Homo sapiens: one gene and its partner. The protein of the gene in region 1 interacts with the protein of each later gene in a pairwise test. Each region holds a gene or a part of one and is shown on either strand. Other genes may lie near its edges.

Region 1 (3,500 bases):
AGTAAACATGTCCATATTTCATTATTCATCACCCAAACAAAACATGACAAGCCTCACACAAACCACTGTGATTTTTTATTTTTTTAAATAGAGACAGGGTCTCGCTCTGTCACCAAGGCTGTAGTACAGCTGCACAATCATAGCTCACCACAACCTCAAACTCCTGGGCTCATGCAATCTTCCCGCCTCAGCCTCCTGAGAAGCTGGGACTATGGGACTACAGGTACCCACATCCAGCTATGATTTCTTAAATTATTCTGGATATCGCAAAAAGCCACCCACTTCATTTATCTCATCACTGCATGATTTCCAATACCTTCCTTCCAGCAACAAAAAGAAATAAACAGTTCCCTTTGGCATTCTCCCATGTACCTTTTTCTATTTCTCTCTAAAATATATTCATCTAAATCTTCTACATAAAGTTTCTATGCTTCCTTTTCATCTGAAGATCCCATTTCAAAAAGCCATCAGTAAGTAACACTAAGTTCCTGTTAGATAGAAATAGCAATTAAGCTCTACTCAATTATAATCTCCCAATTTTTATTTTATTAGATATTTCTTCTTCCTCAAAATCGTTCACAATAATTCAATGTAATTCACAGCTTTATCAATGACTTATGCTTATTTAGTGGCTGCTTTTGCTGTTTTAAGAAATTATTAATAATTAATAGAGTAATTTAGCTCCATCAAATATAATATTTTGTGACAGCTTCTAAGGTATACAATAATTCTAAATTTTTAAGCATTTTCCCTGAAAAAGCAAATATTTTAAAGGCATGAGAAGATGTACTGGTTTAGGAAACAAAGCCACTAAAAATACTTTATTTTTTAAAAGAAGGATTTAAAATATTACCTTGAAGCTGACATATTGTAGATGGTTTGAATGTCTTTTAATAATCTGTTTGATCAGCTCTGGATGGGTAGCTTTCAAATAAGATGTAGCTGGCTGATTCAGTTCAAATTCAAAACATCTCCACAAGTCAGGCATGTGAAATACCTGGTTCCAGTTGCGGCAAACTTGTGAAGCATGAGCCCGGTCAAGAAGAGGCAAATATTTAAATACTTGGAGAATAATGTCCTGAAGGAGATTACCCCAATCACAAGTCTGAGAATGCTCATTTGTAGTCCTCAGTTTCTTGGATTTCTCTGCAGTTCCTTCTTCTGATGAATTACGGTCACTATCTCTTCCTCCTCGTTTCATCCTATTCCGAAAAATGCATCAGTTTTTTTCCTACTCAACTTTTGAATAGAAATAAACTCAAAATTCATTCTTCTGTCACTGAGATGTGTGTTTATATACACAAACATGCAGGAAAAACTGGATCAGTAATTCAAGAATACCAAAACAAACTATTATGAAAAATGCCAATGAAGGCCAACAATGGTTTTATAAATTTTACACTTTTTTGGCATGTTTTTAAACATCTACATTTATCAGTATAATATACAGTATATACTACATGGGAGAGAGTATTATGATTTTGAAACTATGCTAAGAATTTATATTTCAAAAGTTGTGGTCAACTTAACTAAAATGAATATAAAAGGGAACCTACAGCGATACTTTGTAAAGGTTTCTTAAAAGTCATCTAAGGATATTTGTTCTTGAATTCCAGGCCAACCAGGGTCCCAAGAACCTCCAGAGAGGATGTTCCACATTTAATAGTCTATACAGGGGTCCTGTGGTTCTGGCCTGAGGACCAGAACTGGGCCCCATAGCAGGAAGTGAGCAAGCTTTACAGTCTGAACTCCTCCTCCTGTCAGATCAGCAGCTACATTAGATTCTCATAGGAGTGAGAATCTTATTGTGAAATGTCCACATGAGGGATCTAGGTTGTGCGCTCCTTATGAGACTCTTAATGCCTGATGATCTGAGGTGGAACAGTTTCTTCCTGAAATCACCCCCTGCCACGGACAGGCACTGGGCTATGCTATGTGTTACTGCCAGACATTTCTTAACTCCGCCTAAAATAAGCAAAACCACCCCTACTATGAATTGTTTGGTCTGGAATGTAGCTGCTTCTTCAAACACATCACTTAATATTGCACTGTTTTCCCCAAGTTGTGTTTCTGAATTATACCTATTTGTTTATTCTATGTATTCTTAGCACTTTCATTCCATTAGTTTCTTTGAAAGATAGTTTTTTCATGGCAAAACAGTATTATGGCTAAAGAGAATGGGCTCTGGAACCAAGCTCCTTGGGTTTGAATTCTGGCTCTACCTCTCACTGGCTATGTGGCTTTGAGCAAATTACTTGATATTCCTGTGCTTAAATTTCCAAAATTAGTTTAATAAAACAGGGTTTCTGTGAGAAATGCAATACTATTAAGGCTTTTCAAAGGGGAGATACGACTGTTGAACTGTTGAGATATGACTGTTGTGTAGGAAAGCAGTCCAGCATTAACGACATTAAAGTACACAACATGCTAAAAACCAGGGTTACTACCCAGAAGGCAGAGAATGATTCATTCATTCATTCCGTTCACTCATTCATTCATTCCGTTCACTCATTCATTCAAGATGGGGTCTCGCTCTGTCACCCAGGCTGGAGTGCAGTGGCACGATCATGGCTCACTGCAGCCTCGACCTCCTGAGATCAAGCAATCCTTCCACCTCAGCCTCCAGAGTATCTGCATGCACCACCACACCCGACTCTATTTTTGCTTTAAAATGGAGAGAGAGAGAGTGTGTGTGTGTGTGTGTGTGTGTGTGTCAGAGAGACAGGGCAAGTGAGCTTGTGTACGAGAAAACACACCCTGGAAGTAGACTCACTGAATTATTATAGTAACCAACAGTAGACGGCAGATTACAGGTAATTTTTTTTTCTTGCAAACATCTCTTCCCTTTTTATGTTTTACACATTTTCTTTTACTATCAATGCATTACCGTGTAATCGGACTTTTTGGAAAAGTATAGCAGGCTCTAAACTAAATGGCTGCAGACCACTCACTGGTAGTTACTTAGTTCAGAGCCTGTAATACTTTTGTTTCTAGAGAACAGTTCTGGCAGGGTAGTGGTTTCGACCTAAACTTGGGGTCACAATCTTTCAGAAAGATGGCTTGTTGCTCCAACACTCCTCTGGCCTATCAGCATAAAAGAATTTCTCATTCCTGTGTGAGATGAAGGATATGCATATGCATTACTGTAAAACAAATGTTTCTGCAGACTTTCTCCACCCAGTACCTCGCAAAACTTGTGAAAGAGGATTGAGGGCTGGAGAGTAAAAAGAGAATGGCAGAGGCCTCTGACCTTAATGCCATGAAAGTCAGTCAAAGACGTCTTAGCATATGTGCAATAAACTGCCTATTCTTCACTGCTCCTATTCCCAACTATGTGAATAAAATATATTACGTATACCCTACTGATCAGGGAGAGAACAAGAGAGAAAATAGAATGACAGAGGTGACAGCAAGAAGGTAGTCTGATGGAAGACTGGAAATTATGTGTGACTTGAGATTAGTTTTTTTTTAATAAGTTTAGAGAAAAGTGTATAGTCTAC
Region 2 (4,797 bases), on another chromosome or scaffold:
CTGAAAGTGTCCCCGTATTTGGGGAATTAAATGTTTTATCCACTGAAAAACTACACCATAAATGAATCTATAAACAGACAACTTCTAGGATTTGTTTTATTAAGGTAAGGATTCCTTCAAAATAAGGCATGCTATATCAGTTAGAACACTTACCTTCATTCCTTCTTCCCAACTAATCCACAGGTCCCCTCGTGTCAGGAAGCAAGCAACTGCATGCCTGGCTAGATGATGAATCCAACCCTCCTGACGAAGCTGTGTCATGATGGCATCAATCCATGGAAAGCCTGTCCGGCCTTCCGCCCATTTGGCTAAAGCCTCAGGATTTTTATCCCAAGGAATCTGAACACAGATAGGGTTTCCTTCCATTTTATCAAAGCGTGGATTATTTGTTGCTGCTGTATAGAAAAATTCACGCCATAACAGTTGCCCATAAAGGGAAAGGGGAGGGGAACTGTTCTTCTTTACCTATGGTTAAAAAGCAAAGAAGTATTATCAGAATTTTTTTTTAAAGTATTAAACAATAAGCTCTAATTTTAGAGAATACCTTTTTGTAGAGATCTGTTAGTTTGAAGTAAAACAGTCGACATGACAAACAACCAAATCGGAGATAAGGACTAAGTCCAGTAGGGCTTGCAAGCAGAGAATTCGCATTCATTCGAGGTCTTTCAAAATTTGCCACCCAAGCCTGAAAACACACAGAGAAAATTATATTAACTAATTGTCTTTTTCATTTTAAAAGAACACTCAGAATGGAGATTTTTTTTTTTAAAGTTACATAGTTCTTGGGGAATAAAATCTTATCCTAGCCACAAATTACATGTTTTAATAAAAAATAAGACAGGATAAAAAAGTGAGCATTCTTTTGTTTCAGTCGTCCTTGTGCAGCACATACTCATGTGAAATAAATTTCCTTCAAATTTCCAACAGAAAGCTGAGAGCACCTTCAATCTCTCTCTCTTTTTTTTTTTTCCTGAGACAGGGTCTCGCTCTGTCACCCAGGCTGGAGTGCAGTGGCTCAATCTCGGCTCACTGCAACCTCCAGCTCCCGGGTGGAGGATTCTCTTGCCTCAGCCTCCTGAGTAGCTGCGACTACAGGCATGCGCCACCACGCCCGGCTAATTTTTGTATTTTTAGTAGGGATGGGATTTCACCATGTTGGCCAGGCTGGTCTCAAACTCCTGACCCCAAATGATCTGCCCACCTCAGCCTCCCAAAGTGTTGGGATTACAGGTATGAGCCACCAGGCCTGGAAAATTTATTTATTTATTTTGAGATGGAGTCTCACTCCATCACCCAGGCTGGAGTACAGTGGTACGATCTTGGCTTACTGCGACTTCTGCCTCCTGGGTTCAAACAATTCTCATGCCTCAGCATCCCAAGTAGCTGGAATTAAAGGCACACACCACCACCCTGGCTAACTTTTGTATTTTTAGTAAAGATGGGGGTTTTGCCATGTTGGCCAGGCTGGTCTTGAACTCCTGACCTCAAGTGATCCACCTGCGTCAGCCTCCCAAAGTGCTGGGATTACAGGCGTAAGCCACCATGCCTGGCTTTCAACCTCTCTTTAACACAAAGGTAAAGGTGAAATATAATTCTATTCTAGTTTCGAAATTGTGGCCACTAGATACTAGCTTAGGTAGAAAGAACAGAAGAGGTAGTGCGGTAGTAGCTAAAGGGGAAATAATTAGAAGAGAAGGAGAAAGAGCATTTAAATGAGGAGATGGTAGTTAACTTTCAAACAATTAGGTTTGTGCTATTTTAACCATTTCTGTTAATCCTCCCCTTTCAACAATCTATTTGTTATTTTTAAAAGAGAGAAAAATTATTTTTTAAATGGCAGTTTGGAAATACAAGCATAGCTATATAATCTACATTATCATACTTTTCTTTCCAAATGCCTTTCCAAACGAGTAAGTGCTTCAGTTTCTCCACCTGGCCACACTGCAGAGGATAAGCCATCTGTATCAAAACCTACAAGAAAGAAAAGAAAAAAACATCATTCTTCCGAAACTAATTTTTATTTAACCCCAATAACTGGGAGAACAAATTACTTTGCAGAAAAATTAAGAGAGTACCATAAAAATGAACTGAAGGCCTAAATAAGCCCTCACCTATAGAGGATATGACATGGTTTCAATTTTTCAGGATGTACATCTTAAGGTGGTAACAATAGATCACATATTTATAAAACACATAAATGATGAACAAACATATCACTTCTTAAAGGGTTCTTTTTCTTCTCCCCCTGCCCTTTCTTTCTCTCCTAATGCAAAATACTTTACATGGCAAAATTAAAAGGGGAATTTTCTGAGTAATTTATGATTTATTAACTTGCAAGCCTCACACTGACTACAGTTTACACTCACCTAGCTCTTCCAGTGAAGGGACTCCATATTTCTCATCATGGTCATCAGACAGAGGAGTTGTGCACTTTTCTATCACTTCTGAAGTAATTGTCTCTACTGGTATCTCTAGTGGTTCCATTTTGCTGATGAGAGTCTGGAATCTTTTATAAGTTAGAGGCGGTTGTCCACCATTGAGTTCTATGATCCTATAACAAGAGTTAGTAAAATGTAGTTAGTATTAAAAAAGACAATACATTTTGGCTAATAAGCTCCCAAAAGGCTTAAAAAGCAGAAAATAAAATTAATCACTGAAGTCTTTGAGGGTGTTAGCTTGTTATAATGACCAAGAAATGTGTCCAAAATGATTAATGAGTCCAAAAATCATTCTCCTGAGCTTCTAGACATCCTCTGGGTATCAAATATACTACACAAATATACTACACAAATATTAAACCTTTAAGACAAAGAATATTAAAAACTTATGAGAGGAAAAAACAAGTAAGAGGGGAAATTAGTCTAAAGGCAATTACAAAAAGTTAATACACACAGACATATGAAAAACATGTTATGGCCCAGCTCAAAGAATCTCAATCATCAATAAAAACTAAACCAGGTTGATAATTATATGAAAGAGTAATCAGCAGGTCTCATTTAGGAAAAATAAATTTTATTGTATATATTTGAGTTTACAACACATTATGGGATACATGTAGATAGTAAAATGGTTACTATAGTGAAGCAGATTAACATATTTATAATCTCAGTTACTTTTTTGTATGTGTGTGACAAAAGCAGCTAAAATCTACTTATTTGATTAAAATTCCAAATAAAATACAATTTTATTAACTAAAATCCTTACTCTGTACACTAGACCTCTAGTGTTGTTCATCTTACATAACTTCTACTTTGTATCCTTGGACCTACATTCCTGATATGGTTTGGCTGTGCCCCCACCAAAATCTCATCTTGAGTTGTAACTCCCACAATTCCCACATCATGGGAGGGACCCTGTGGGAGGTAACTGAATCATGGGGGCAGGTCTTTCCCGTGCTGTTCTCATGATAGTGAGTAAGTCTCACAAGATCTGATGGTTTTTAAAAGGGGGAGTTACCCTGCACAAGATCCCTCCTTGCCTGCTGTCATCCATGTAAGACATGACTTGCTCCTCCTTGCCTTCCACCATGATTGTGAGGCCTTCTGAGCCGTGTGGAATTGTAAGTCCATTAAATCTTTCTTTTGTAAATTGCCCAGTCTCGGGTATGTCTTTATCAGCATCGTGAAAACAGACTAAAACAATTACCCTATTTCCTTCAGCAAATTTTATAAATTTTGATTCTATATTACTGTGGTGACAATTACTTCCTATTTTCTATTGTGCTAATGAAGGCATGAGAGATGTCAGCATATGTATCTATGTCACATACTTAGAACACATAAGCCCCCAAATTTCAAGTTATTTAAATTTAAGTATCTTTTTACTTCTGATCATTAATTAACTCAATCAATTATTAATTAAAAAAATAACTAGCTTTGCCAATGGTAGTTAAAGATTAAGTTTAGACACTCTTTTGGAATAACTACTCTTTTTCACTATGGCCATTTGCTTAGCATTTGGCCTTAATAAAAAATGACAGGTGAAATCCAACTCCATCATTTTATAGATGTGAAAACAGGCCTACCAGGAGAGTTAAGTAAACTAGTCAAGGTCATATAACTGATAAACGGCAAATCAAGGTTTTCTTAGTGTATTTTAGTGTATTTTTCATTATACAATACGTAGTGATGTATCAACTACAGATACATACAGAAAGTAATACAGAAAGCAATCACCATAAAAGATATCCTGTTTAAGTAAATTTTGTTTTGGTGTATTTTGAATTTATTCATAGGGTTGCAATGAATTTTGCTGAATGTAATGATGCTACAATAATACTACTGAGGACATTGTTAATTACACAACAGTAGCAAAATGAGAATCTTAGGACAAAACATTTTCTATATGTTACATTTTAATATGATAGATTACATATAGTAAATATTCACATTCAATCCAATAAACACTTGATTTTTTTTTTTTTTTTTGAGACAGAGTCTTGCTCTATTGCCCAGGCTGGAATGCAGTGGTGCTATCTTGGCTCACTGCAACGTCTGCCTCCCGGGTTCAAGTGATTCTCCTCCCTCAGCCTCCCAAGTAGCTGGATTACAGGCACCCGCCACTATGCCTGGCTAATTTTTGTATTTTTAGTAGAGATGAGGGTTTCACCATTTTGGCCAGGCTGGTCTTGAACTCCTGACCTCGTGATCCATCTGCCTCGGCCTCCCAAAGTGCTGGGATTACAGGTGTGAGCCATCGCGCCTAGCCTAAACAATTTTATGCATAACACTGAGTCTCCCACTTAGAAGCAACTGCTTTTATCCTGTGTTGCCCCCTCCTTGCTATGAGCTCCTTAAA

What was found. The genes of interacting proteins can lie anywhere in the genome.
Region 2: the proteins of FBXL3 (region 1) and CRY1 interact in a protein complementation assay, tested with the Homo sapiens proteins (one study listed by BioGRID).

What each region holds. Positions count from the first base shown.
Region 1 is NC_000013.11:77,020,660-77,024,159, forward strand, and holds part of FBXL3 (F-box/LRR-repeat protein 3), read right to left. Parts: intron 1,203-3,500; 5' UTR 1,202-1,202; coding exon 854-1,201; intron 1-853. UniProt on the Homo sapiens protein: Substrate-recognition component of the SCF(FBXL3) E3 ubiquitin ligase complex involved in circadian rhythm function. Plays a key role in the maintenance of both the speed and the robustness of the circadian clock oscillation.
Region 2 is NC_000012.12:106,999,398-107,004,194, forward strand, and holds part of CRY1 (cryptochrome-1), read right to left. Parts: intron 2,552-4,797; coding exon 2,367-2,551; intron 1,972-2,366; coding exon 1,883-1,971; intron 686-1,882; coding exon 545-685; intron 466-544; coding exon 154-465; intron 1-153.